Regions from separate parts of the Homo sapiens genome. Here regions 1, 2, 4, 5, 6 and 7 are each linked to region 3. Evidence: fine-mapped expression QTL. A gene starts in region 3. Each other region holds a variant in brackets. All regions are shown on one strand. Distances are from middle to middle.

Evidence for each region. PIP is the estimated chance that this variant, and not a neighbour inherited with it, causes the effect.
Region 1: its variant is fine-mapped to the expression of WDR6 in whole blood (INTERVAL, PIP above 0.99).
Region 2: its variant is fine-mapped to the expression of WDR6 in whole blood (TOPMed, PIP above 0.99).
Region 4: its variant is fine-mapped to the expression of WDR6 in whole blood (INTERVAL, PIP above 0.99).
Region 5: its variant is fine-mapped to the expression of WDR6 in whole blood (INTERVAL, PIP 0.95).
Region 6: its variant is fine-mapped to the expression of WDR6 in whole blood (INTERVAL, PIP above 0.99).
Region 7: its variant is fine-mapped to the expression of WDR6 in whole blood (TOPMed, PIP above 0.99).

Annotation. Positions count from the first base shown.
Region 1 is chr3:49,997,358-50,001,564 of GRCh38, reverse strand. It overlaps RBM6 (RNA binding motif protein 6), which reads right to left. Exons shown (of 21, transcript NM_005777.3): 6 at 2,052-2,125. Among named protein-coding and RNA genes, the nearest start is that of RBM6, 59 kb to the right of the region's middle. The variant AG/G (reference allele first, on the strand shown) is at 2,527.
Region 2 is chr3:48,923,451-48,927,657 of GRCh38, reverse strand. ARIH2 (ariadne RBR E3 ubiquitin protein ligase 2) reads right to left here. Exons shown (of 16, transcript NM_006321.4): 3 at 1-196. The coding sequence starts at 99. Among named protein-coding and RNA genes, the nearest start is that of ARIH2OS, 6.2 kb to the right of the region's middle. RefSeq lists enhancers at 665-724, 2,498-2,998, 2,999-3,499. The variant G/A (reference allele first, on the strand shown) is at 2,462.
Region 3 is chr3:49,005,464-49,009,670 of GRCh38, reverse strand. It overlaps WDR6 (WD repeat domain 6), which reads right to left and starts at 2,280. Exons shown (of 6, transcript NM_018031.6): 1 at 2,140-2,280. The coding sequence starts at 2,239. It overlaps P4HTM (prolyl 4-hydroxylase, transmembrane), which reads right to left. Exons shown (of 9, transcript NM_177939.3): 7 at 3,804-3,894; 8 at 3,484-3,607; 9 at 2,518-2,984. The coding sequence ends at 2,764. RefSeq lists silencers at 1,606-1,785, 2,326-2,375 and an enhancer at 2,514-3,502.
Region 4 is chr3:49,144,746-49,148,952 of GRCh38, reverse strand. No RefSeq gene overlaps it. Among named protein-coding and RNA genes, the nearest start is that of LAMB2, 14 kb to the right of the region's middle. The variant T/ATTTTT (reference allele first, on the strand shown) is at 2,351.
Region 5 is chr3:48,516,474-48,520,680 of GRCh38, reverse strand. PFKFB4 (6-phosphofructo-2-kinase/fructose-2,6-biphosphatase 4) reads left to right here. Exons shown (of 14, transcript NM_004567.4): 14 at 875-2,997. The coding sequence ends at 934. Among named protein-coding and RNA genes, the nearest start is that of SHISA5, 14 kb to the right of the region's middle. The variant C/T (reference allele first, on the strand shown) is at 1,775.
Region 6 is chr3:49,399,963-49,404,169 of GRCh38, reverse strand. All of the region lies in intron 1 of RHOA (ras homolog family member A), which reads left to right. Among named protein-coding and RNA genes, the nearest start is that of RHOA, 9.9 kb to the left of the region's middle. The variant A/G (reference allele first, on the strand shown) is at 1,921.
Region 7 is chr3:49,323,750-49,327,956 of GRCh38, reverse strand. USP4 (ubiquitin specific peptidase 4) reads left to right here. Exons shown (of 22, transcript NM_003363.4): 3 at 141-271; 4 at 2,112-2,238; 5 at 2,918-3,063; 6 at 3,194-3,255. Among named protein-coding and RNA genes, the nearest start is that of USP4, 14 kb to the left of the region's middle. The variant T/C (reference allele first, on the strand shown) is at 2,326.

The DNA of each region.
Region 1 (4,207 bases), 990 kb before region 3:
TTGCATACAACCTACACACATCCTCCAACATACTTTAAACCATCTCTAGATTACTTATATCTAATACCTAATAAAGACTATATAAATAGTTAACTGTACTTTTTTGTTTTTTGAGACGGGGTCTCACTCTGTCACCCCAGGCTAGAGTGCAGCAGAGTGATCACAGCTCACTGCAGTCTCAATCCAGACTCAAGTAATCCTCTCATCTTAGCCTCCCAAGTTGATAGCCACCACACTTGGCTAATTTTTTCACTTTTATTTTTTGTAGAGATGGGGTCTCCCTGTGTTGCCCAGGCTGGTCTCAAACTCCTGGCCTCAAGCAATCCTCCCACCCGGGCCTCCCAAAATGTTGGGATTACAGAGTAAGCCACCACTCCTGGCCTGTATTATTTTTTATTGTTGCAGTGTTAATGCATTTTTTTCCTGAATATGTCCAATCAGCATTTGGTTGAATCTATGGGTGTGGAACCTGTGGATACAGAGTGTCAACTGTATTTGGTAAGTGATTCAGTGATGGACACTGAACAAATGGTCAATGAGAATCCTCTTAAGTCTAGGGGATATGGTCCTAAGCCTGTCATTCTTTAAGGATCTGACAAGCTTAAACTACTAACAAGATAAGGATACATCAAAAGTCTTCTCTAATGAGTGCTTGCTCCCAAAGCATTTAGAGCATGTCATCTCCATACCCATAAGAGGAGAACTTGGCCAAGAAGAGAAAAGTACGTATAATGAGCCACACTGAGTTAAACAAAGCTGAACAAAGCATCAGGCTACAGAAGAAGAAGAGTTCTCATCTAATAACTACTCTTCTCTGGCAGAGCCTTCTTTTAAGATTCTGGGCCTGGCTGGGCACGGTGGCTCATGCCTGTAATCCCAGGACTTTGGGAGGCCGAGGCAGGCAGATCACCTGAGGTCTGGAGTTCGAGAGCAGCCTGACCAACATGGAGAAACCCCATCTCTACTAAAAATACAAAATTAGCCGGCGTGGTGGCGCATGCCTGTAATCCCAGCTACTCAGGGGGCTGAGACAGGAGAATCGCTTGAACCAGGGAGGTGGAGGTAGCAGTGAGCCGAGATCGCACCATTGCAATCCAGCCTGGGCAACAAGAGCAAAACTCCGTCTCAAAAAAAAAAAAAGAAAGAAAGAAAGATTCTGGGCCCACTGTATTCACACTGTTAAGTATAGGCAGTGGGTACATTAAAAAAAAAAAAAAAGAAAAAAAAAACACATCAAACTATATTCCTAAGTTTCTTTTCCTACTTTACAGATGGAGGAACTGAAACAACCCAAAGAAAACAACTTTCCCCAAGGAAGCACCATAACAAGAAGGATTCTACCTATTTATTAATTCCTCTCAAAACTACCAGGTAGGGTTCTATTAAAGACATAGATGAAAAATCTAGGTGGCAAGCTGAGTAACTCCAGATAGTTCAAACGTAAGGTGAGTACAGATTCTGATTCACCAGCTCTGACTATACGCAGCCAAGGACTTGAGTATGCAACTCCAATTGGCAAAAAACAATGATGAATGCAATAGACACCAACAATCCACTCCTCTCTCTTCCCTGATAGCTCTCTTTTGGAAGTAGCCCCTGCAGGCAGGATCTGATGCCACAGAAGTCACCATCAGAGGTCTTCACCCTAGGTCTGGGTGTAACTATTGACCTAGAATTTCTGTGCTAGGCAGATCCTTGGGGTCACAGACAATCAAGGATCATTCTTTGCATCAGGATTACCATCTCAGTCACACTCCAAAAGGAAACACTCCAGATGTGTCTTTTTTTTTTTTTTCCAACTATTGTCTTTGGAATCTAGTCCAAAAGCAACTGGGCTCTAGCTTTTAAAATGCACTCTGTGCCCATTAAGTTTTGTAGAGAAAGCTTTCCAGCCTTTTTAAAGATTTTCCTCACAACCGATGGTTGGAATACAGTATGCTCCACAGATAGACTTCTTGTACCTTTCCAAAGTAAAATCATTTGAAACCCTCCCTCCCCATATATAAAAAAATATATCCTTCCAGCATCATTTGACCGAAGTATAAAGCAACCTGGTTGGCCTCCATGCATCCGATGGCATCTTCCAAGAGTGAAAACTCCACGCAGACATAGCCATAGTCGTAACCTGGGGACAGCATTTAAATACAGACGGGAGTGGTGTTAGTGCCTTGCAAACACAAAAGACACACTTAAATCCCCTGTTTCTGAACCCCTTAAACACAAGCCCTCCCAACTAACCCCTCCCTCCCCTACACTAGGTAAAGTTGCTACCCCAAATAGAAAAAAGTATTGAAGAAAAGTCTCGATGTTTCTGGACTTTGAGATTCATTCCAAAACAGCCTTTTCTATTAACCAAGAAGATCCTTTGCCCTCTTTAGCACTGGTGATCTGGTGAAGGTACCCCAGAATTGGGTAATCCCACAGAGAGTTCACGTGGGGACCCGAAACATTTTAACCACAGGCTAAATCTTCTGGAAAAACAAAGTCGACAAGAGCAAGAAAGTATCTGGAAAAAAAAAAAAAAAA[AG/G]GTATCCCGAGAGAAGAAAAAAAAGCAATTATCCCCAGGCTATGCTAATAGTCACCACTTTTCAAGCAGAAACCACCTTCAAAGACAGAAGTGCTGACAGACTGAGGCAACTATTCTGTTTGGATACCACAGGAGGCTTCTGGTTGGCAGGGGACAGACCATTTCAGGTCTCCTCTTTTTTTCCTTGTTTCAACTCAAGTCATAAACCAGCTAAAATCTTTATAAAAGGAAGAAGGTGTAAAAGCATAAATAAGTACAAATAACTATGTCCAAAATTGTGCTTATGCACAAAGACTGGTGGTGGGGCAAGCTGGGAGAAAGACAGCAGTTGTTAGCAATCAATACATGTTTAAGAACTGTACAAACCATTAGAGCTATAAAATACCCTTCACCTTACTCCTAAGCAAGTGTCATTTGCAGCACAGGCCTGAGAGTTGTATGACTCACGAGACTGGGAAGTCCTGGGATTTATAGGTTGCTGAACTAGAATCTAACCAGTCCTATAATTTCCCTGACACTGCCACCATGTGACTACAAAAATACACTTGTCAATGCAGTGCTCCCCAAGTGGCTTCCATGCTTCCTCCACTGCCTCAGAGGATAAAGAAGCTCATCTCTAGGAATCACACTGTGTAAATGGAACCGCAAGAAAAAGATGTGATGTTCAGATGAGAAGCAAAACTCAGGCAAAGAAAAACACAAAACCCTATGATAATTTTGACCACAAAGTATATATAACAATAGGAAACTGATATCACTGCATCAATATCAAAGATCAACAAAACTAGAACAATAGAAAGTATAAGTTTAAAAACATACCACATTTGGTGAAATAAGATTCCTTGTCACATGAAATGAATGGCTTCAAAATGTTTTACTAATAACAATAAACTTTGATTTTAGACTTGTTAAATACTCCAAGTTAACTGTGAAACATTACAATGGTATAGGTTGATTCTTGTTTTGAGTTTCAGAAAATGACTAGGAAGAAGAAAAACAATCTACTAGAAACCTCAGCACTACTGTAGGATGAGAAATAGATTTTCTAATCTACTTTTAGTTTTGACCAACGTGGATTAAAACTAACCCCTCCAAACTTACCACAAAATCAGTCTCCTCTGCTTAATAACTCTTTGAAGAAATAAAAATACTTTAGAGAAACAGCATGCATATCCTATTAACAATGGAAACTGCTTTGTTAGTTAATTCCTTTCAAGTGAATCTTCTTGATCAAACTCATTGAACACCTAATACATAAATCACTCTGCATTTTATAAACAGCTCTGAATATTCTTGGGAAACATTACAGAATAACAGAAGGAACTAAGACACCTGTTAGCACCAAATATCCACTGCAAACACTCAAATGCATGTCTACAATCAGAAAGGGTTAGCCATGGAACAAACAGGTGTACTCTCTAGTGTGTTGATTACCTCTACAGAACATATCAATGGAGTACCCAGGTGTGTGGAAAGCAACCCTCTCCATAGCTGCCCGGATGAAAAACATAGAGAACTAATACTAAAACTGGCAAAGCCCTAAGTTTCCTTTCTGTGCTTAAAGAAGTAACTACTGTGGCCCAGAGGAGCACACAGAATCTGTGGACAGAGAGAAAAGATTCATGACAACGTTCATACTTTGCTAAAGGACAAGTAGACATTGGGAAGAAAAAGATACAG
Region 2 (4,207 bases), 82 kb after region 3:
CCCAGGGTCGTCTTCTTCTTCTTCTTCCTCTTCCTCACAATTTGGGTCATAGTCCTCTTCATTGCTGTCAGACCCCTGGCTATTCATGTCCACTGACATCTTAGCATCCAGCCAAGTTGCAGATCAGGAAAGCAGTTGCTTTTTCCCCCTCCCCCCAAAACTACCGCTTTCTCAAATGCATTAGTATTTTTGTCTTCTAAGGGAGGAAAAAAAAAATAAGTGTTACTTTTTCCCCATGACAAGTTGTAACAGAAACCATTCAAGAATCAAAATGGGACAGTCCTGGCCCTAATCTCACTACAGCCTATTCCAACTCTGGTATCACATGGGGAATCTTACTATCATCCCCCTGGCCCAGGCTTATAAAAGGGAAATCCTTCCCTGGAGAGACAGAAGCAGCTAATAAATGGTAACTTCACATGAAAGGCCTGGCATGACAGGGCAAGGCTGTCTGCTCTATGTCAGAAAGTCAAATTCCAATGAACTTGTTATTCTTGCCAAAGTCCTTAAGGGAGAAGCACATCCCCACAGCTGGCAGCCCAGAGGGGAGGCAACATAAAGGTTTAACTACCAAAGTTTAAAATTTTGCTTATCATGCCCCGTTAGTATTGATACAGACAGTACATAAATAGGAACACTTCCTGCTGTAATATGTAGAAAAAGAAAACCACTGTTTCACAGACATTACTTTTAGGTGTCTGAAAAATAGGTGCATAGTTGGTAAAGAAAAAAAAAACACACATAGGTGTTCAACATCCTCCTCTAGTCTGCAAAGTTGACTGATTTTTCAGGTTTAAAGAGTTCTACTGGCCGGGTGTGGTGACTCATGCCTGTAATCCCAGCACTGTGGGAGGCTAAGGTGGGTGGATCACTTGAGGTCAGGAGTTCAAGACCAGACTGGCCAACATGGCGAAACCCCATCTCTACTAAAAATACAAAATTAGCCAGGTGTGGTGATATGCACCTGTAATCCCAGCTACTCGGGACGCTGAGGCAGGAGAATCACTTTAACCCGGGAGGCAGAGTTTACAGTGAGCCAAGATTGCGCCACTGCACTCTAGCCTGGATGACAAGAGTGAAACTCCATTGGCCGGGTGCGGTGGCTCACGCCTGTAATCCCAGAATTTTGAGAGGCTGAGATGGGTGGGTCACCTGAGGTCAGGAGTTCGAGACCAGCCTGGCTAATATGGTGAAACCCTGTCTCTACTAAAAATACAAAAAAATTAAGCAGGCGTGGTGACAGGCACCTGTAATCCCAGCTACTTGGGAGGCTAAGACAGGAGAAACGCTTGAACCCAGGAGGCGGAGGTTATAGTGAGCTGAGATTGCGCCACTGCACTCCAGCCTGGGCAATAAAAGCGAAACTCCGTCACACACACACGTACACACATACACACACACACACACACACACACGAGGGAAACTCCATCTCAAAAAAGAAAAGCCCGCAAACAGCGAAATGTTACTTAATTACATATAAACGAAAAGAGAATACTAGTTGAGAAAGTGAAACAGTCACAAACCCTAACTTCAACTCACAGAAGATTGTGGCAAACACCCATTAACTTTTCTACACAACTACCATTTCAACTGATGAGCTGAAAGGAACAATATCAACTAGCGATTTAAATCTAAAACTAGGCCAGGTGCGGTGGCTCACGCCTGTAATCCCAGCACTTTGGGAAGCCAAGGCGGGTGGATCACGAGGTCAGGAGATCAAGAGCATCCTGGCCAACGTGGTGAAACCCCATCTCTACTAAAAATACAAAAATTAGCTATACGTGGTGGTGCGTGCGTGTAATCCCCAGCTACTCAGGTGGCTGAGGCAGGAGAATCACTTGAACGAGGGAGTCGGAGGTTGCAGTGAGCCGAGATCCCGCCACTGTACTGCAGCCTGGCAACAGAGTGAGACTCCATCTCAAAAAAAAAAAAAAAATCTAAAACTAATAGAACCTTAAAGTGTAAGAGCATTTGGATTTAACAGTACATAAACAATTTATATAAACAAATCTTGATTAAATACAAAAGCAAATATAAAGTCTACTTGAAGTAGGTAATCTGTCTGAAAAAAAACAACCAACCATAATCTAAAACAAAGACTGAGGGTGTGGCTCACAACTATAATCCCAGAACTTTGGAAGGCTGAGATGAGAGGATCCCTTGAGGCCAGGAGGTCAAGATCCACCTGAACAACCTAGTGAGACCATGTCTCTACAACACATTTAAAAAAAAAAAAAAAGAAATCAGCTGGGCGCGGTGGCTCATGCCTGTAATCCCAGCACTTTGGGAGGCCGAGGCAGGTGGATCACGAGGTCGGGAGATCGAGACCATCCTGGCTAACATGGTGAAACCCCGTCTCTACTAAAAATACAAAAAATTAGCCGGGCATAGTGGCAGGCGCCTGCAGTCCCAACTACTGGGGAGGCTGAGGCAGGAGAATGGTGTGAACCCGGGAGGCGGA[G/A]CTTGCAGTGAGCCGAGATCGCGCCACTGCACTCCAGGCTGGGCGACAGAGCGAGACTCCGTCTCAAAAAAAAAAAAAGAAAAAAAGAAAAAAAATCCCGGCACTTTGGGAGACCAAGGTGGCCAGATCACCTGAGGCCAGGAGATTGAGGCCAGCCTAGCCAACATGGCAAAATCCCATCTCTACTAAAAATACAAAAATTAGGCTGGGCGCAGTGGCTCACACCTGTAATCCCAGCACTTTGGGAGGCCGAGGCAGGCAGATCACGAGGTCAGGAGATCCAGACCATCCTGGCTAACACGTGAAACCCCATCTCTACTAACAATACAAAAATTAGCTAGGCATGATGGCATGCACCTGTAATCCCAGCTACTCAGGAGGCTGAGGCAGGAGAACTGCTTGAACTCGGGAGACGGAGGTTGCAGTGAGCAGAGATTGCACCACTGCACTCCAGCCTGGGCAACAGAGCGAGACTCAATCTGAAAAAATAAAAAAATAAAAAATAAAAAATAAATTAGCTTGGCAGGGTGGTGCACACTTGCAATCCCAGCTACTTGGGAGGCTGAGGCAGGAGAATCACTTGAACCAGGGAGGAGGTTGCAGTGAGCCAAGATCATGCCACTGCACTCCAACCTGGGCAAGAGTGAGACACTGTCACACACACAAAAAATAAACAAATAAATAAAATAAGACAGGCATAGCGGTCATGCGTCTGTAGTCCTGGCTACATCGAAGAACTGCTTGGGCCTGGAAGGTCAAGGCTGCAGTGAGATCGTGCCACTGCACTCCAGCCTAGGCAACAGAGAGATTCTGTCTCCAAAAATAATAATAATAATAATAATAATTCAGGTAAATAATCTTCTACTTAAAAAAAAAAGGCCCACGTACAGTGGCTCACATCTGTATCAGTGGCTCACGCCTGTATCATAATCCCCACACTTTGGGAGGCTGAGGCTGGAGGATCATTCAAAACCAGGAGTTCCAAACCAGCCTGGGTAACATAGTGACACTCACGTCTACCAAAAGGAAAAAGAATTTGTAACCAGTCTAAAAGACTATGGAGTACTGAGACATAGTATCACTCTGTCACCCAGTCTGAGATATAAAAACATGATCATGGCCCACTGCAGCTTCCAACTCCTGAGCTCAACAGATCCTCCTGCCTCAGCCTCCTGAGTAACTGGGACTACAGGCATATGCCACCCCCATACCTAATTTTATTTTTTGTATAAACAGGGTTTTACTATGTTGCTCAGGCTGGTTTCAAACTCCTGGCCTCAAGCGATCCTCCTGCGTTGGCCTTACAAAACGCTGGGATTATAGGCAAGAGCCACTGTGCCCAGCCTACAGTCACATTTTTATATAATAAAAATATTGGCGAGGCGCGGTGGCTCACACCTGTAATCCCAGCACTTTGGGAGGCCGAGGCGGGTGGATCACCTAAGGTCGGGGGTTCAAGGCCAGCCTGACCAACATGGAGAAACCCCGTCTCTACTAAAAACACAAAATTAGCTGGGCGTGGTGGCACATGCCTGTAATCCCAGCTACTCAGGAGGTTGAAGCAGGAGAATGGATTGAACCCCGGAGGCAAAGACTGCAGTGAGACAAGATTGCATCATTACACTCCAACCTGGGCAACAAGAGGGAAACTCTATCTTAAAAAAAAAAAAAAACACTCACTATATCTAAGTTGATATGTTAACTATAAATGCTCCCATTTCTAAAAATTAAAAAAAAAACCCTATT
Region 3 (4,207 bases):
AGTCTAATCCAGTGGTTCTCCACAGGGGGCAACTTTCCCCACAGGAGACATCTAGCAATAGCTGGAGACACGTACGGCTGTCTCCAGGGGTTGTGCTACTGGCAAGTAAGGCCAGGGATGATGCTAAACATCCTACAATGCACAAACAGCATTCCAACAAAGAATTATCTGGTCTAAAAGGTCAATCGAGGCAAGATTGAGAAAACCCTGGTCTAATCTAACAAGACTGGGTGAGTGTAAGGGGAGGCCAACTTGAGGACACAATATTTAGAGTTAGGATTCAAGGATAAGCAGCAGTTAGCCAGAGGAAAGGAGGCGGAAGAGGGGGACTGGGAAATGTTGGGGCGGGGGGGGGGGGGTGGGGAGCAATGGGAGGGTTTGCAGCTTTCTTGGTGGAGAAAACAGCATGTATGATTGCCCTGAGATGGGCAAGAGCATTGAGTATGGTGGATGGAACAGGAAATGAAGAGCTCAGGAAGAGGCTAGAGAGGCCGGGTATGGTGGCTCATGCCTATAATTCCAGCAATTTGGGGGGCTGAGGCAGGCGAATCACTTGAGGTCAGGAGTTTGAGACCAGCCTGGCCAACATGGTGAGGCCCCATCTCTACTAAAAATACAACAATTAGCTGGGCATGGTGGTGGGCACCTGTAATCCCAGCTACTCCGGAGGCTGAGGCAGGAGAATCACTTGAACCTGGGAGGCGGAGGTTGCAGGGAGCCGAGACCGTGCCACTGCACTCCAGCCTGGGTGACAGAGGAAGACTGTCTCAAAAACAAACAAACAAACAAACAAAAAACACACACACACAGAATTGTAGCTATATAAAAGTCACTTTGGAAGCCACAGAAGTAGGTGAATTCACTTGCAGAGCTTCTTAAACTGCATTTCCCAAGTTATTCCCCACCTTAAAACCCTTCAATAGGTTCTCCCCACTGCCCTTAGGGATAAAGTCAGATCAAGGCCTGAAACAATGTGGCCTCTGCTCGCTTGTCCAGCTTCCTTTCCTCCCAGACTCCATTCCTGCTCTAACTTCACAAGAATTCCCTCCTTCCCCCAAAATGACAGATTCTTCCAGCCTCAAGGCCTTTGGCATGCTTACCCTCTTGCCAGGAACTCACCCCTTTTCCTAGTTCACTCTTGTGGTTCTTTGAGTTTCTGCTTCGTTGTTCCCCCTCAAGGAGCCTTAGGAGTTTAGCTCGCGGTAGGAACTCCGCGCTCCAAGAACCCCCACACCAGATCAAAACTGGATCATCCCCACCCCATACACACACCCTCTTAGGACTGGTGGCAACTCACTCAAGGCCTGACCGCCAAGGCCCTGCCTCAGGACCCTTATACAACTCAGCAGCACCAACATGGGTCATTAGTGGCTTCATGTAATGACTGTTCGAGACCAGCCTGGACTCTGACACCTCAGGTCCCAGGCCTCGCCTGTCCTTTGCGACCCGGTTCTCCTTGGAGGGACCTCCACACCTGATTTCCTGGACCTCAACCATCTCAGGAGGGGGTCTCAGCCCCTGCTTCCCCGGGCACCGCCCCCTACTCGGAAAGGTCTTATCCGCCGTTTTCCGCGACGCCACCCTCCTCAGAGGATCTTCACCCCCACCTTAGGGGGAAGAGACTCATCCCGCCCTCGAGAGGCCACACCCTTGCCCTCTCCCGGCCCCGCCTTCCCCAAGAGGCCACACCCCCTGAGGGGCCGGGGCCGCCTCCGCCTCCTCCTCCTCCTCCTCCCTCCGCCCCCCCCAGCTCGGCCCCGTCTCCTTCGGAGAGGCCAAGCCCCCGCCCATCTCCTAGAAGGGAGCACACCCCCTCAACCCTCAGCTCCCGGGCCTCCGCCTCCGCCTCCGCGCGGCCGCGTTCCCCTGCACCCTCCCGCGGTTCCACCCGCCCTTTCCACGCGGGCTGAAGTTTATGAAGCGCCGCGGCGGCCACATCAGCTTTGTCTCTCGGGCCCCGCCCTCTTCAGGTTGGCCCTCGTCCCCGCCATCTCCGGGGCTCCCTTCCCACCTCCGATCGGCCTCAACCTGCTGCCCGTCCTTCTCCTCAGGGCACCCCTTTTGTCCCTGTGGCACCGCCCCTGGGAGGCGCTGTTTCTTTCCCCCTTTCCACCAGGCGTGCCTCAAGCCAAGCCTCACCCGCCAACAGCCGGTCCCCCACGCACTCCAGACCCGTCACTGGGAGGAGTATAAGCTCCGAGGTTGCCCGCGGCCAAACGTAGTCCTCGAGAGCGTCCATGTCGATCCTCGAGGTGCTGAGGCAGCCACGGCTAAGAAGGGAGCTGAACTCTCGCGAGAACGAGCCTTCCCAGCGCGCCGCGCTGCCCATCAACAGCGCCCTCAGCTACAGGTAGCAGAGACCAGGGCGCCCGCGGCGGTTGTCCAATGACGACCCTTCGTCCCACGCAATCCAGCTCATCATTGGCGGGGCCCGCGGAGGGGCATCCCGCCCCTCGCCCCCTCACGTGACGCTTGCGGGGCGCTCCCAGCTGCCAGCCCGCTGCACCTATCGCGGACTCTGTTTCGCCGACCCGGAGTTTGTCGGGCCCGGCGGCTCGAACCTTGTGGTTTTTTATTTGACGGGGCAGATGGAGTCAGTACACAATAAATAACATGAATATAGGAACTGCGCCGTATCGCGGCTGGCGGGGTGGGGCAAGACATTGGCCAGACCTTTAGTCTGCAGCAGGACAGAAGGACAGCCGGACCCCTGATCTTGGGCAACTGGCGACCCGCGGCTGGGAACCGGGGCTAACTCTTCCCTCAGAGTTCCACGCGCGCATCGCGGTAGGCCCGGTCCAGAGCCCACTCGGGCTGTGAGTCGGTGCCCCCTTCTCGGGCAAGGCGGGCCATCTCCTGTTGGAACAGCGCTTGCCGCGCTCGGCTGGGGTCCACATTAATCCAGTTGTTGGCAATCCACTTGGTGCCGCGCGTGACCAGGCAGCCCCCGTGCAGCGAGTAGTCGTCTACGTCACCCACCCAACCTAGAAGAGGAGGGTGACGTGAGATCCTAGGCTGGGCTGGCCAGAGCTTGGCCTCATAGGCACCAAGAGCATGACCAAGGTGGGTCCAGCTATGCATTCCTTGTGTAGCAAACACCCAGACCTAAAGCTTCCTTGGAGGCTCCTCATCTCAGCCCACTAATGTATAGTCAACACTACTGGCCCTCTGAAACCAGCTTTCTTGCTGTTGGGCCTGTCCATATCCCTTCCCATCCTGGGTTAGCAAGGGACATGTGTCCCAAGCCCCAGGGAGTAGGAAGGCTGGGGCATCAGGGAATGATAGGGATGGATATAACCCAATAAGCAGTACAGGTCCTGGGGCAGTCTGCTAAAGTCACTAAGGATGGCCTTTGGGAGGCACCAGGAGCAGAAAACTATTTGGAAAGCAGCCAGAAACAGCCCTCCATTGTGGCAGACGGGGGCTGGGTAAAGGGAAGCTGTACTCAGGGCACCCCCCCCAGGCCTGGCCATAGGCCCTCACCTTGCCCATCAGGCAGGTAGTTGTACCAGAAGACTGCTGTGCCCTGTTGGGGCTTGACACGCAGGTTTCCCTTGTCACAGTGCCTCCGTGTGTCACGGAGGTCCACGTCATCCTGAATCAGACTCTGTGGGCAGCAGGGTGGTGGGGTGTTCAACCTGTCCCCACTCTATGGCCAGGCCAGCCAAGGGTGACCAAAGGGAAACCAACCAGATATGCCCAAGGAATAATTTGGGCCCACATCCTTAGACCTGGAGAGGTGTGTACTTCACTTGTCTAAGCCCCTGCCAGCCCACAAGAGTAATAGCCCAGTTGACCCTTACCATTTCATCGTAGGTTCTGTTATCTGCTACAGGGAAAACAGTCTCGCCCCCACCAGTGACGTTGTTCAAATAAAACAGCACTGTCATGTAGCTGTAAGGCAGGGGGGGCACTGAGCAGGTCCCCAGTTGTGGATGCTCCCAGGGGCTTACCTGTGGGCAGGATAAGCTGCCCAGGTTCCTGTTGCCAGGGACCAGGACAGACTAGGATGGGAGACAATAGGGCAGGCCAGTGCCAAAATGTCCCTAGCCCCTCCTTCCCCGAAACCCAGTCTCTTACTGTGAGTTGCAATGGTTTTTTGGCCAAGATCACAGGTGCACTTAGTTAAATGCCATGGCCCTGAGCAAGGGCCTGGCAGGGAAAGGTAGGCTAGCAGAAGCAACAGGGCGCGCTGAAGGGCTCCTTG
Region 4 (4,207 bases), 140 kb before region 3:
CCACTTCCTGGGTTCAAGCGATTCTCCTGCCTCAGCCTACCAAGTAGGTGGGACTACAGGCGCGTACCACCATGCCCAGCTAATTTTTGTATTTTTAGTAGAGACGGGGTTTCACTATGTTGGCCAGGATGGTCTCGATCTCTTGACATTGTGATTGTCCCGCCTCAGCCTCCCAAAGTGCTGGGATTACAGGCATGAACCACCGCACCCGGCCGAAACCCCATTTCTACTAAAAATACAAAAATTAGCCTGGCGTGGTGGCACACACCTGTACTCCCAGCTACTCGGGAGGCTGAGGTGGGACTGAGCCGAGATCGCGCCACTGCACTCCAGACTGGACGACAGAGCGAGCCTCCATCAAAAAAAAAGAAGAAGAAAAAGGAAAGAAAGAAAGGACGGAGGGAGGGAGGAAGGAAGGAAGGAACGAAGGAAGGAAGGAAGGAAAGAAGGAAGGAAGGAAGGAAGCATGGAGGCATCTCTGGGACCACATGATCATTGCAGCATCACCTCACCTCTTCTCCTCTCCCCATTCACTGCAGGGTTGTGGTTCTATACAGACTTTCTGCTTTGATCCAGGAACATGCTGCTACTCCACGACACAGGCTATGGCAGACCAAGAGGGAGTGTGGAGGACTGAGGGAAGCTTCATCCATCTGCATTCAGTGATGTCCTAGGGGCTGCACCCTACATCTGGCAGAGACATAATTTTTTTTTTTTTTTTTTGAGAGGGAGTCTCGTTCTTGTCACCCAGGCTGGAGTGCAATGGAGCAATCTTAGCTCACTGCAACCTCCGCCTCCCAGGTTCAAGCAGTTCTGCCTCAGCTTCCTGAGTAGCTGGGATTACAGGTGCCCACTGCCACACCCGGCTAATTTTTTTTTTTTTTTTTTTTTGAGACGGAGTCTTACTCTTTTGCCCAGGCCTGAGTGCAGTGGCGCTGTCTCGGCTCACTGCAAGCTCCGCCTCCTGGGTTCACGCCATTCTCCTGCCTCAGCTTCCCGAGTGGCTGGGACTACAGGCGCCCGCCACCATGCCTGGCTAATTTTTTGTATTTTTAGTAGAGACGGGGTTTCACTGTGTTAGCCGGGATGGTCTCGATCTCCTGACCTCGTGATCCGCCCGCCTCGGCTTCCCAAAGTGCTAGGATTACAGGTGTGAGCCACTGCGCCTGGCCTTTTTAAAATTTTTTTATATATTTATTTATTTTTTGAGATGGAGTTTCTCTCTTGTTGCCCAGGCTGGAGTGCAGTGATGTGATCTCTGCTCACTGCAACCTCTGCCTCCCAGGTTCTAGCGATTCTCCTGCCTCAGCCTCCTGAGTAGCTGGGACTACAGGCGCATGCTACCATACCTGGCTAATTTTTTTTTTTTTTTTTTTTTTAGTAGAGGTGGGGTTTCACCATGTTAGCCAGGATGGTCTCAATCTCCTGACCTTGTGATCCGCCCAACTCGGCCTCCCAAAATGCTGGGATTACAGGCTTGAGCCACCGCACCTGGCTACCCGGCTAATTTTTGTATTTTTAGTAGAGTTGGGGTTTCACCATATTGGCCAGGCTGGTCACGAACTCCTGACCTCAGGTGATCTGACCACCTTGGCCTCCCAAAGTGCTGGGATTATAGGTGTGAGCCACTGCGCCTGGCTCAGAGACATAAATTTTATTTTATTTATTTTAATTTTTTTGAGATGGAGTCTCACTCTGTTGCCCAGGCTGGAGTGCAGTGGCGCAATCTTGGCTCACTGCAAGCTCCGCTTCCTGGGTTCATGCCATTCTCCTGCCTCAGCCTCCTGAGTAGTAGCTGGGACTACAGGCGCCCGCCACCATGCTTGGCTAATTTTTTTGTATTTTTAGTAGAGACGGGGTTTGACTGTGTTAGCCAGGATGATCTCCATCTCCTGATCTCATGGTCCGCCCACCTCGGCCTCCAAAAGTGCTGGGATTACAGGCATGAGCCACTGTGCCTGGCCAATTTTATTTTTTTATTTTATTTTATTTTATTATTATTATTATTTTTTGAGATGGAGTCTTGCTCTGTCACCCAGGCTGGAGTGCAGTGGCGCTATCTTGGCTCACTGCAAGCTCCGCCTCCCACGTTCACACCATTCTCCTTCCTCAGCCTCCCAAGTAGCTGGGACTACAGGTGCCTGCCACTGCGCCCAGCTAATTTTTTGTTTTTGTATTTTTAGTAGAGATGGGGTTTCACCGTGTTAGCCAGGATGGTCTCGATCTCCTGACCTCATGATCCACCCGCCTCGGCTTCCCAAAGTGCTGGGATTACAGGCGTGAGCCACCACGCCTGGCCTATTTTATTTTATTTTATTTTATTTTATTTTATTTTATTTTATTTTATTTT[T/ATTTTT]TGAGATGGAGTTTTGCTCTTGTCACCCAGGTTGGAGTACAGTGGCACAATGTTGACTCACTGCAACCTCTGCCTCCCAGGTTCAAGCGATTCTCTTGCCTCAGCCTCCTCAGTAGCTGGGATCACAGGTGCTGGCCACCTTGTCTGGCTAGTTTTGTTTTATTTTATTTTATTTTATTTTTGTGTTTTTAGTAGAGAGAGGGTCTCACCACATTGGCCAGGCTGGTCTTGAACTCCTGACCTCAGGTGATCTGCACGCCTCGGCCTCCCAAAGTCCTGGGATTACAGGCATGAGCCACCTGCACCCGGCCTCTTTGTTTGTTTATTTACTTATTTATTTTGAGACAGAGTTTCGCTCTTGTTGCCCAGGCTGTAGTGCAATGGCACGATCTCGGCTCACTGCAACCTCTGCCTCCTGGGTTCAAGCGATTCTTCTGCTGCAGCCTTTGGAGTAGCCGGGATTATAGGCGCCTGCCACCATGCCCAGCTAATTTTTTTTTGTATTTTTAGTAGAGACGGGATTTCACCATGTTGGCCAGACTGGTGTTGAATTCCTGACCTCAGGTGATCCACCTGCCTCGCCCTCCCAAAGTGCTGAGATTACAGGCGTGAACCACTGCGCCCAGTCTCTGAGACATAAATTATAGCAAGACAGGATTGGTGCAGTGAGGCTGGGAGGCAGGGGATCATAGAGGCCTGGAGTTGCAGCAAGAGGATTAAGACCTACATAGATGGAGAGTGTAGGCAGAGGAGCCCAGGCAGGGGAAACAGCTCATGCAAAAGACAGAAGATAAGAATAGGCAAGTGCCAGATCTCATAGGACCTTTTGGGCCAGGAGAGGGGCTTAACCTTTATCCCAGGGGAAGTGGGGAACCATGGAAGAGATTTAAGCAGGGAAGAGATGTGGGGAGAATTTATTGTTTGGTGGAAGGCCCAGATGCAAGCTCCCGAAATGATTCTGAGTGAGAGATGGCATTCTCTCTACTAGATTGGGGCCACTGGAGATGGAGGAAAAATTGACTCAAAACAGATTAGGGGTTCAAGGGGCCGGGCATGGTGGCTCACGCCTGTAATCCCAGCACTTTGGGAGGCCGAGGTGGGATCACCTGAGGTCAAAAGTTTGAGAGAAGCCTGGTGAACATGGTGAAACCCCGTCTGTACTAAAAATACAAAAATTAGCTGGGCGTGGTGGCGGGTGTCTGTAATCCCAGCACTTTGGGAGGCCGAGTTGGGCGGATCACAAGGTCAGGAGATTGAGGCCATCCTGGCTAACATGGCGAAACCCCACCTCTACCAAAAAAAAAAAAAAAAAATTAGCCAGGTATGGTAGCATGCACCTGTAGTCCCAGATACTTGGGAGGCTGAGGCAGGAGAATTGCTTGAACCTGGGAGGTAGAGGTTACAGTGAGCCAAGATCACAGCATTACACTCCAGCCTGGACAACTAGAGCAAAACTCTGTCTCAAAAAAAAAAAAAAAAAAAAGAGAGAGATTAGGAAACAGAAGGGGGGCTGAGGGGTGGGGGTAGGGATGTCCCCCTTGGATGAGGGCCAATCCAAGAAAGGTGGCAAGTAAGTGTTAATGAGTGGGGCTGATTGCCTCTTGCTGGCTTCCCTTGACCCTCTTGCTAGCTTGTGCACCTGCCATGGGTGAACACGTTGCCTGGGCTGGGGTCTTTGTACCCTGGGGCCTCAGGCATTTACAGGAGTTCCACCAGGCAGGCTCATGGAGGCAGCAAGGCCAGGCCTCTCCAGCACGATGCCTGAAGCCTGTGCCTGCCTGTTCTGCAGCATCTCAGCTCTGCTCCATGGGGATGGGCCTCAGTGAGTGTATGTGCCAGGCTTGAAGTGGCTTCAGG
Region 5 (4,207 bases), 490 kb after region 3:
GTGGTGGAAAAGGGGCGCCTCAGGAAGCCTGCCCAGCAGTAAGAATTATACCTGCCCCTACAATTCCAGGGGCCGGTCCTATGAGCCCAGGCTGTGGGCCATGGGGGCCATGTCTCTCTCCCTGAAGATCTGGGCATGTCATGTTGCATGGGGCAGCAGCTCAGGTCATCAGTGACCTGCTCCTGCAGGTGATGGTTCCGGGGCCCACAGCTGGGAGGAGGGGCCACCAGGCTCTGGGGCACATAAGACAGCCTCAGAGAGCTAAGGGAAGTTTCAGATTCCCTATTCCTCAGGCCTGAGACTCCCTGAGCCCGACAGGCCAAGGATGGGACTGAGCTCTGCAGTTTGGTGGGGTCCTTCTATAGCTGAGGGCTTCAGGAGGCCCTGTACCCCAGTTCTGAGGGGACAGACCAGGCTGCAGACCAGGAAATGCCCATAGGCTTCTGGGGCACCTCTGACACCTGCGTGCCAACACTTTAAACTAGGAAGGAGGCACCCCCAGGAGTTGAACCCCTTCCCTGCCCCACAGATGAGGATAAAATCCCCAAGCCAGGGGTTCCTCCTCAATTGACTCAGCCCTGAGATAGGAGGTGGGAGTGGCCTTGCTTTGGGTATTGCCTGACCTGGCTGCAGTGGAGCAGGAAACGAGGTGGCATCCTCCACCGCACCTTTGTTCTATTGTCCATCCACCCGCTATGTGGCACGAAGCTCTTGGCCATGTATTCTTAGGGAAGCTTGTGGTCTAGAGTCTTGCGGCTGTGGCTGCTACAGTGAGAATGTGAAGCCTGATGAACCACAGTGATGAGGACGGCAGACAGCAGGCATCTCATCTATTCCTGCCATGGAGTGAACGCTCTGTGTTTTTATTGTACAGAACGTGGACATCTCAAGACCTCCAGAGGAAGCCCTTGTCACGGTGCCTGCTCACCAGTGACCATGTTCATCCACTGTGACCACTAGGCAGGCACTGCTCTCTGCAGAGGGGGTCATTCCAGGCCCTCCAGTGTGTGTGATAGTCACCATGCCATGCAGGGATATTCTTGAAGCCACACATGGCTGGCGGAACCCAGAGCCCCCACCCCAGCCCACCTGGCTCTTTGTTGACAGTCGGCGACAAGGTTGTGCGTGGCTCCTGACCTGCTGCTAAGAGTCACTTGACCAGACTGCATCTGCATGGGCTGCGCGGAGGTTGCCCAGCCCCAGTTTCTTCCGGCGCAGCTCTTAGGTGTTCACTCTCGCCAGCTCAGTTGGCTTTGTGAAGTGTGAAACCCTACAATGTGAAAGGAAAGTGCTTGCTGTGATGTTCCTACTGTGGCCCAGCTGCCCAGCATGGACCTGGTGACTCTCCACAGGGCCTCTACCATCCTCTCTGTGGCCACTTCCTGAGCCAGAGGCCAGGTCTTCATGGGGCCCTGAGCTTCTGCTGCCTCTGGTGAGAGGGAGAGCCCTTCCCATCCTTACCCACCAGGAACTAGAGCCCCAACCACAGCAGATGCTTCCTGGGCAGCCACTGGCCAGGCCGTTGTATCCATGTCACCCTTAGTTGTGGGCATTCATGAAAGCAATGCGCTTGCTTCAGCACATTGGGATGCACAGAAACGTGAGGGCAGGGGGGCAGTTGTGGTCGCCCCTCCCCAGTTGTGCATGTACCCGGCTACTTAGGTATGCTTAGGGGAGCTGGTGGCCAGGGGTGCCCCTTCAGGCCTGCTCTCACAGTGAAACCACTTCAAGACAGGGCAGGAAGTTACCTTCCTGGTGCACACACCGAAGTGCT[C/T]GAGGGAGAGGCTGCCGCCCCCTCTCCCCTTCCCTGGCTGTGGACACTGGCAGCCAATGGGGAGGCGGCCTCTCCCCTGTTGCTGCCCGTGTCCACACAGGAATGTACACTGGTGGCAGAAACATGCATTTGCCATAAATAATTCAGAAACACTTGTATGGTCCTGTAAAACTTCTCTGGTGTTTGTTGACTTCTGCCTGTGGGTCTGAGGAAGGGAGAAGGCAGAACCCATAGGCAGTCCCTGGGCAAGGGAGGATTTTCCCGGCCGCAGCACAGCCTTCCATTCATGTGCACGTGAGTCTGGTGAAAATGGCCTTGTGAAGTCCAGTGTCTGTCATGCCCCTGAGTTCTTTTGGTCCCAGAGAGGCAGCCTGGGCAGTCTGTTTACAGCTGGCAAACAGACTGGCTGGCAAGTTGTGGGGCTGGGTCAGAAAGTGTCTGGACTTGTAATCGGGTGCCCTGCTGTCCACAGGTGGACTCTGGGGAAGCCAGGCCCCTGGATCCCAAGTCCTTTGTGTCCGGAGCCTTTCCTGGCCTGTGCCTGGAGGGTAGCACATCTTTCCAGCCTCCCAGGGCTTTGCAGCCTGCAGATGCCACCTGTCCCTGAGAGAAGTTAGCGTCCCTGGCCCTGGCCGGTGGTCTCTCATCCTTGTGTGCTGCTCTGCTAAGAGATGTCCAAGGCGGAGCCGGGGCAAGATCCTTCCAGACTCATCTGTCAGAGCCCCAAGCCCTTTAGACCCAGAGCCCAAGGACCATGCCTTTGGGACATTAGGACTGCAGCCTTTGCTTCTGTGTATTTTGGAGTTTTGGTGACTTTTGTCACCTGGACACACTCATTTGTTAGCCATAGTGGGTTCCCTTGGTCAGCAACAGTGCATGTACCTCTGGATGTCATCTGAGGTGAGACCACCGAGGCCTTTTCTCTCTGTGTACAGAGGGGAGTTAGGAGTTGCTGGACTGGATGCATTACGAGGACTGGGGACAGGGTAGAGGGACATCCAGGGATCAGGGCATGAGTGGGGGCAACCCCCCGGCCTCTGCCCTGGCATGGTCTCCGCATGGGCTGAGGTGTAGCTGATTGGCTGCCACATTTCGGCCATGCTGGCTGGCGTGCCCATGTTGCAGATATTTTCCCGAGTTCCCCAGAATGGATGGTATTGAATCTCAGCCACATGCAACACTGTGTCCAGCATTCTTTGCAATAAATACTTTTTAAAAAATAATCTCAGGTTGTATTTGGTAGCCAGTTCTCCATTTCTGAAGTGTTTTTTTTCTGGCCTGCTCTGTCGACACCTGGTGCTGTGGTCTTCCTCGCAGGTCTGTGTTGGGATCCTTCGTTCAGCTTCCACCCCCATGTTCACTCTCACTGAAGAGGAATTATGCTGCCCTGGAGTGAGTCCTGGCCTGGCATACATGGGCAGGCGGCCTGGGTCTTCCCTGGGCTGACCTGGGGTATGGGGCCCTTGGCCCTGAACATGAGGCAGATGTGGAGGGGGCAGTGCAGCTGGAGTGGAGCACTGTTAAGGGAAGGATTCTGGGGTCCCTGGGAATGTGGGCTCCAAATGCGGCATTCTTGGGGAGGAGGCCCCGGGAGCTGGGTCAAGGATGTAGTGGCTGCGTGAGGCTGTGGTGACAGTATGCTGACCAGTGTTTTGGTATTTTCTTTTTCTTTTTTTATTTTTATTTTTTGGAGACGGAGTTTCACTCTTGTTGGCCAGGCTGGAGTGCAATGGCACGATCTTGGCTCACCACGACCTCCGCCTCGGGTTCAAGCAATTCTCCTGCCTCAGCCTCCCCGAGCAGCTGGGATTACAGGCATGCACCATCATACCCAGCTAGTTTTTATATTTTTAGTGGAGACAGGGTTTTTCCATGTTGGTCAGGCTTGTCTTGAACTCCCAACCTTAGGTGATGCACCCGCCTTGGCCTCCCAAAGTGCTGGGATTACAGGCGTGAACCACTGCACCCGGCCTATTCTGGTATTGTCTTTGTCACCTGCATCTGGGGTCGGGAAGGTGGAGACAAGGGGCTGGGTGTTCTCTTTCCCATGCCTCAGAACATCATGGGCTGTCCATACTTCCTGCCCTGGAGCTGGCTTTCCGGGAAGTGGGTTGTAGGCGGGGCTCCTCTGTGGGCAAGATGGGGCAGGGCATTGCCGGGTGTTCGCCTGTGCTCCTCCCAGTGTGTCAGGGCAGAGGATGGCTGTCGCTGGGCTGCTTCTGGGTGGTTTGGGGTGGCCAGCAGCTATGTTTCTGCCTTCTCCAACTATGCCAAGGTGTCTGAGGGAGAGGCAACTTTGCAGGATTCAGGTGGTGACTAACCTCTGCCTGGTGAGAGCCTGGGGGACAGCTTCGGGGGTCCTCACCTGTCTCTTGGCTCTGAGTTCCTAGGGTGGACACCTGACTCCCTTTGAGGCTTCTCAGCACTTTTGGA
Region 6 (4,207 bases), 390 kb before region 3:
GCCACTGCGCCCAGCTAATATTTTTACATTTTGTAGAGATGGAGTCTTGCTGTCTTGCCCAGGTTGGGTCTCAGACTCCTGGGCTCAAACAGTCCTCCCACCTCAGACTCCCAAAGTGCTGCAAGTACGGGCATGAGCCACTGAGTCCAGCTATCTTCAACTTTCACTATTCAGGTTACAGTTTGTAGTACCTTTTTTCGGGGGTGGTGGGAGGGTAGTGGGAGTAGCACCCTAAGATTTCTTGGAATAAAACAGGGCTTACTACTTGGTTCCTGGTACTTAAGAACAGTGGTTCCTAGACTCCACTGTTCCCAAACTTGGAATCCAGTTCCCCAAATTGGAATCACCTGAGGTTTAATTACCTTCATGGAGGTTTAATTTGCATACAATAAAATGCACATACTTTAAATGATAGTTTGATAATTTTTTTGTTCTTATTTTTTTTAGACATAGGGCCTTGTTCTGTCACCCAGCTGAAGTGCAGTGTCGGAATCATGGCTTACTACATCCTCGACCTCCTAGGCCCAAGAATTCTCTGCTTTAGCCTCCCGAGTAGCTGGGACTGCAGGTGTGCACCACCACGCCTGGCTACATTTTTATTTTGTAATTTTTTTTTTTGTAGAGAGAGGGGTCTCACTATGTGCTCAGACTGGTCTTGAACTCCTGGCCTTAAGTGATTCTCTCGTCTCAACCTCACAAAGCCCTGGGATTATAGGCATGAGCCACCACAAACCGCCAGTTTGATAAATTTTGATGAATGTGTATACCCAAGTAATTGCCACTCAGTCGAGTTAAAGAGCATTTCCTCAAGGCTTTAAATTTTTATTTTTATTTTTGAGACGGAGTCTTATTCTGTCATCTAGGAGTGCAGTGCCGCAATCTTGGCTCACTGCAGCCTCTGCCTCCCGGGTTCAAGTGATTCCCCTGCCTCAGCCTCCTGAGTAGCTGGGACTACAGGTGCGTGCCACCACACCCAGCTAACTTTTTGTATTTTTAGTAGAGATGGGGTTTCACTCTGTTAGCCAGGATGGTCTCGATCTGATCTTGTGATCCGCCTGCCTCTGCTTCCCAAAGTGTTGGGATTACAGGCGTGAGCCACCGCGCTCGGCGGGTTTCTTTTTTTTTTTTTTTATGAGATGGAATCTCGCTCTGTTGCCCAGGCTGCAGTGCAGTGGCACGATCTCAACTCACTGCAACCTCCGCCTCTCGGGTTCAAGCGATTCTTCTGCTTCAGCCTCCCGAGTAGCTGGAACTACAGGCACCCGCCACCACGCCCGGCTAATTTTTTGTGTTTTTAGTGGATACGGGGTTTCGCCATGTTGGCCAGGCTGGTCTCAAAGGCCTGACCTTGTGATCCTCCTGCCTCGGTCTCCCAAAGTGCTGGAATTACAGGTGTGAGCCACTGCTCCTGGCCTAAAGTTTTTTAGACTAGTTTTTTTGTTCATTCGTTTTATTTGCTTGGCTTCCTAGAATATGACAAGTTTTGGTTTGTTTTTGAGACAGAGTCTTGATCTGTTTCCCAGGCTGGAGTGCAGTGGTGCTATCGTGGCTCACTGCAGCCTCTAACTCTTGTGCCCAAGTAATACTCCTGCCTCAGCCTCATGAGCATCTGGGACTACAGGCAAGCACCACCATACCTAGTTAATTAATTTAATTTTTATAGAGATGACGTTTTGCCATGTTGTCCAGGCTGGTCTCTAACTCCTGAGCTCTGGCCTCGCAAAGTGGTGGGATTATAGGTGTGAACCACTGCACCCGGCCTAGTTTTTTATTTTAAGAAATATATATACTTGGTAAAAGTAAACTCCTGCAATAAGGTTTACAATAAGCATATATAAATTCTTAGCCAGCTCACTGGGAGGTACCTAATGGTTCATTTTTCTTTGTCAGTTTTACTAGATACGCATTGTCTTAGAGGCA[A/G]TGTAAGTTTGGAATTAGGCCAAACAAAGTCAAATCCTGATTCTGTGCATCCATTGAAGGTTAACCTTATAATATTTACATTTTGAGATAAATGATTTCATGCTCTTATTTAGGAAACTTGACGGTATGTTACCTCAGGGATTGTTCCTTGCCTGTCTTTCCCCAAAGAACTTGAGTTTGAAGTGATTTTCACTTGGCAGTAAATTGAAGGTTTTCTTCATTGCTTACCACCATGTGCCTTATTCCTGCTGCTCTTGATCTCCAAGTGCCCTTACTGCTACAGAAAGGAAAGCTCTTGAACTAAGAGCTTGGCAGCCACTTGATCAGGATGGCCAAATAATGGCAGTACAGGTTGAGCATCTGAAATGCTTCAAGATGGGCGCTGGCATGACATTCAAAGGAAATGCCTAGTGGTGCCTTTCAGACTTTCAATTTTTGGATTTGGGATACTGAACCAGTAAGTATAATGCAGATATTCCAAAATCTGAAGAAATTCTGAAATCTGAAACACTTCTGGGCCCAAGCATTTTGGATAAGCAGTACTCAACCTATACCAGGCTCAAGTTCATTATGGACAGATGGATGGATGGTAGTTTGGCCCTTTCATCAGGAATTTCCCATGCAGTCAGTAAACAAAATAAACAGCTCTATGTTTTCAACTTCATTTCCCCAATTTTTTTTTTTTTTTTTTGAGACAGAGTTTCATTCTTGTCGCCCAGGCTGGAGTGCAGTGGCCCGATCTCCACTCACTGCAACCTTTGCCTCCCAGAGGTTTCGCCATGTTGCCCAGGCTGGTGTCAAACTCTTGGGCTCAAGTGATCCATCCGCCATGGCCTCCCAAAGTGCTGGGATTATAGGCATAAGCTACCTTGCCTGTCCGTTTTCATATTTTTTTGAGAGATGAGGTCTCACTGTATTGCCCAGACTGGTCTCCACCTCTTGGCTTCAAGCAGTCCTCCTGCCTCCCAAAGTGCTGGGATTGCAGTTGTGAGCCACCACACCTGGTCAGGAGTTTTACATACTATGCGTTGTTACTTGTAGGTCTTGTTTGGAAAGAAGTAACTTCCTAAGGTCAATTCAGAAAAGAAGGGTAGTAACTTAGAGGAAGTAAATTTGAAGGCCCTAGTGTCTAATATTAGTAATTTGGGCTTTTGAAAGTTTCCTTTCTAAAAGGTAGGAAATTAACTCTTTTTTTTTTTTTTTTTTTTGAGACGGAGTCTCTGTCGCCCAGGCTGGAGTGCAGTGGTGCAATCTCAGCTCACTGCAAGTTCTGCCTCCCGGGTTCACGCCATTCTCCTGCCTCAGCCTCCCGAATAGCTGGGACTACAGGCGCCCGCCACTATGCCCGGCTAATTTTTTTGTATTTTTAGTAGAGACGGGATTTCACCGTGTTAGCCAGGATGGTCTTGATCTCCTGACCTCGTGATCCGCCCGCCTCGGCCTCCCAAAGTGCTGGAATTACAGGCGTGAGCCACCGTGCCCGGCTGGAAATTAACCCTTTTATATACCATCCCCCCACCTCACCTTTTTGGCTACAATCTTGCTCTGTCACCCAGGCTGGAGTGCAGTGGCATGATCATAGCTCACTGCAGCCTTGAACTCCTGGGCTCAAGGGATCCAGCTACCTCAGCCTCCTGAGTAGCTAGGATTACAGACGCATGGCACCAAGTCCTGATACAGTCTTCTCTGTACCAGAACAAAGTATTCAGTGATTCAAGCTCACATAGGCATGAAACAGCACTGAAAGACGAAGTGCTGTAGGAGTTCAGGGATAAAGAAGAATTTAGAGTAGCCAGGAAGCCACTGAGGCCTCTGGTGGTGAGGGTGTAACTCTTGGCCTTTAAAATGAGGTTTAGGGGAAATGTTATGAGTAGTGGGAATCAACCCTTGGCCTGAACACAGATAATCTTGTTTTATCTCCTTATAGAAACAGGAGGTGGTGGGGGGTGGCCAGTTTTGGTTAGACTAGGGAAGATGTTGGGGGAGAGGGGGGCAGTATGCTTCTGTAGTTTCGTTTTTTTTGTTTTTTTTTTTTTTTGAGATGGAGTCTCGCTCTGTCACCCAGGCTGGAGTGCAGTGGCGCGGTCTCGGCTCACTGCAAGCTCCGCCTCCCGGGTTCAAGCGATTCTCCTGCCTCAGCCTCCCGAGTAGCTGGGATTACAAGCACGTGCCACCATGCCCAGCTAATTTTTTTGTATTTTTAGTAGAGACGGGTTTCACCTTGTTGGTCAGGCTGGTCTCGAACTCCTGATTCGCCCACCTCGGCCTCCCAACGTGCTGGGATTAC
Region 7 (4,207 bases), 320 kb before region 3:
CCAGTGACAGAATTTTGGAATTTCATTCCTGTTTCTTTCTGTAAATAATTTTCTTATTTCTGAAAAGTACATGGAAATCATGTAAAACCATCATTTCTGGGGTAAAGAGCAGTGACTTATGTGCTCTTTTCCTTTTTTAGATCCTGAGAGTCAGACCTTGAAAGAACACTTAATTGATGAATTGGACTATGTATTGGTCCCTACCGAGGCGTGGAATAAACTACTAAACTGGTACGGCTGTGTAGAAGGCCAGCAACCCATCGTCAGAAAAGTGAGTTATGTGAATTGTCCCACCTGCTGGTCACTGTCTGCAGGTGCTTTCTGTTGGACACTGACTAGTGTTTGCTAGGAAAATGAACATACCTCAGTGGTTGAATAGTGGTGCTTGAGGCCTTGTTTCTGGATCTCTTTTTTTTTTGAGATGGAGTCTTGTGCACTTGTCGCCCAGGCTGGAGTGCAACGGCACGATCTCGGCTCACTGCAGCCTCTGGCTCCCAGGTTCAAGTGATTCTCGTGCCTCAGCCTCCTGAGTAGCTGGGATTACAGGCGCCTTTCACTACGCCTGGCCAATTTTTGTATTTTTAGTAGAGACGGGGTTTCGCCATGTTGGCCAGTCTGGTCTCAAACTCTTGACCTTGTGATCCGCCCGACTCGGCCCCCCAAAGTGGTGGGATTACAGGCGTGAGCCACTACGCCCAGCCTGTTTCTGGTTCTCTTTAGGAAATTGTGGTTGTGAGTGAAGTTGCTCACCCAGAATATTATCATGAGTGGCCTCTAAACATCAGAGCTGCCCAGTGGCTTGGAATGTGCCCAGCAGCGCTGTGAGAGAACTTTCTGGAAAATTCTATGAGAGAAAGTTCACTGGGGGCATATGGACATATAGCTAATGTCCTGCATCTTGTTTATCTTAAAAAACCTTTATGATACTGCTTTTCCCTCTATGCTTAAGAGTCTTTGAGCTAGGCGCAGTGGCTCACATCTGTAATCCCAGCACTTTGGGAGGTTGAGGCGGGTGGATCACGAGGTCAGGAGATCAAGACCACCCTGGCCAACATGGTGAAACCTCGTCTCTGCTAAAAATCCAAAAATTAACTGGGTGTGGTGGCACATACCTGTAGTCCCAGCTACTCGGGAGGCTGAGGCAGGAGAATTGCTTGAACCCAGGAGACGGAGGTTGCAGTAAGCCGAGATCACCCCACTGTACTGCAGCCTGGCAACAGAGTGAGACTCGGTTGCAAAAAAAAAAAAAGAGTCTTTGATCAGGCCGTGCATGGTGGCTCACGCCTGTAATCCCAGCACTTTGGGAGGCTGAGGCAGGCGGATCACGAGGTTAAGAGATCGAGACCATCCTGGCCAACATGGTGAAATCCTGTCTCTACTAAAAATACAAAAATTAGCTGGGCATGATGGTGGGCCCCTGTAGTCCCAGCTACTCGGGAGGCTGAGGCAGGAGAATCTCTTGAACCCAGGAGGTGCAGGTTGTAATGAGCTGAGATCGCACCACTGCACTCCAGGCTGCTGACGGAGGAAGACTCCATCTCAAAAACAAAAAACAGTGAAGAATAGGCTTCTCTCTAATATCATCAAGATGCTCTTGGTCTTAGTGGGTAGAAAAAAAATATATATATATTTTTTTGCGGGGTACAGAGTCTCGCTCTGTCGCCCAGGCTGGAGTGCAGTGGAGCGATCTTGGCTCACTGCAGCCTCCACCTCCTGGGTTCAAGCGATTCCCCTGTCTCAGCCTCCTGAGTAGTTGGGATTACAGGCACATGCCACCATGCCCGGCTAATTTTTGTATTTTTCATAGAAATGGGGTTTCACCATGTTGGTCAGGCTGGTCTCAAATTCCTGACCTCAAGTGATCCACCCACCTCGGCCTCCCAGAGTGTTGAGATTACAAGCGTGAGCCACCACACGCGGCCAGAAAAAATATTTTTAAACTCTTTGTCCAGGTACTGGTAGCTTTAAAAATCTGTTCTTTTGATCCCTTGATCAGTAAAGGAAATGGATTATCATGAGTTTTCTGCTTTTTGCTTCTGATAAGATATGCTACATCCAAGACTGCCCAGCTGCAAAACCGCTATGCCCTCACCCCTGCCTCTTGTTCATAGGTTGTGGAGCATGGCCTGTTTGTCAAGCACTGCAAAGTCGAGGTGTATTTGCTGGAACTGAAGCTCTGTGAGAACAGTGACCCCACCAATGTGCTGAGTTGCCATTTCAGCAAGGCAGACACCATTGGTGAGAGGCTGGGCTGGGGTCCCTGGTATGTGGTGAGAGAGTGTAGGACATTGTGGCTGATGGGAGGGAAGAGGGCATTATTTTATA[T/C]GCCCTCTTTAGATTTGTTACCCAAATCATCTCGAGCTGTAGTTGCCAGTCCTGACCTGGGGGCCTATTCCTCCAGGAATTCTTATGGAGAGAACACTGGGCCTGCTCCTTGCCCATTTGTCTATGATAATGAAGATAAGGAAATGTAGATCCAAAGAAGTTTAAAAATAACTTATTTAAAAATCTCAGCAAGGTTTACAGTGAGCTACGATCCCACCACTGCACTGCAGCCTGGGCATCAGAGCAAGATCCTGTCTCTTAAAAAAAAAAACAAATCGCAGCCAGAAAATGGTGGAGCTAGCTTTTGAAGCCATATCTGAGTTAACTCCAAAGATAAGCTTTCTCGCTTTCTATGTTGCTTTTGCGCCATAAATGAGAGACACACGTTAGCAAAGAAGCATAGGGATACTTTCCAGGCATATGAGTGCAAGAGGCCACCCATGGGAGATGATTGATTTTAAGAGGTATCAGGGGGTTGATCCAGAGCACCTGTGAGCATCTGACAAGAAAGAGGATGAGCATTAGTTTGCCATGGCTGTCTTTAGCCTTGCATGTGGACAAAGCCCCAAGTGATATTTCTGCCTGTTCCTAGCAACCATCGAGAAAGAGATGCGGAAGCTATTCAACATCCCTGCGGAGCGTGAAACACGGCTCTGGAACAAATACATGAGCAACACCTACGAGCAGTTGAGCAAGCTAGACAACACTGTCCAGGATGCTGGGCTATACCAGGGTCAGGTAGGAGGGCCCTGGCCATTCCCCAGCAGGTAGCTCTGCCCAGGGTGTGTGGCCAGATACTTTTTGCTTCTAAGCATGTTGGAAGTGCGGTGGTTTGAACTCTCCTCATTTGGTTTCCCCTTTCACTCAGGTGCTAGTAATTGAGCCTCAAAATGAAGATGGCACATGGCCCAGGCAGACCTTGCAGTCAAAGTAAGTGAATTTTTTCTCCCTTGTTGTAGGCTCACATGTGCAAAAGAGACAGTCTTTCCTAAGGCAGTACTTGTACTAAGAAAAATTGTTCTGATTCAGATGAACAATGCCTATTTTGTATATCCAGAGTTCATGCTTCTGGATGAAGACCGTGGCTTTTGGTAGCAGGGCAGCATCTAAGGGAAGCCTGTCAGGATATCTCAGCAAGGTGGCGAGCCTCTGCTCGTGGAGAATGAGAAAAGGAGGAAGGGATATGAGGGATCAAGTCTAAGGTTGCTGCTCTACCAGGAGGTTGCTTTGTTTTTGTCACGCTTTTATTTTCTCCACATGTAGTTAGAGGCCTTGATGGATAAGAGGAAGGCTAAGGCATGGGGTTTTATATGACTTAAAAGTGATAGTTGAGGCCTGAGCATGGTGGCTCATGCCTGTAAGCTCAGCACTTTGAGAGGCCGTGGGAGGTGGCTCACCTGAGGCCAGGAGTTCGAGCCCAGCCTGGTCAACATGGTAAAACCCTGTCTCTACTAAAAATACAAAAATTAGCTAGGCATGGTGGCAGGTACCTGTAATCTCAGCTACTCGGGAGGCTGAGGCTCAAGAGTCGCTTGAATCCAGGAGGTGAAGGCTGCAGTGAGCTGAGATCGCACCATTATACTCCAGCCTAGGTGACAGTGCAAGACTCTGACCCAAAAAAAACAAAAACAAAAAAAAAGTGATAGCTTGATTCTACCTGTTTCTGCCCAGTGGCCTGTTACTCATTGTTGCCCTGGGAGCTTGCTGGGTGAATTGTTCAGCTACAAAACTTGGACTAAGGACACATCTGTTTCAAGAGATGTTCATGTGGTATGTGGAACTGTGCATGTTCTTAGGGAGATAAAGAAGTGATTAATTTTCGTTATGGTATAAGTTTTGGAAATTATATCTGTGTTCCAGTAGTTATGGGAATAATGTTGCG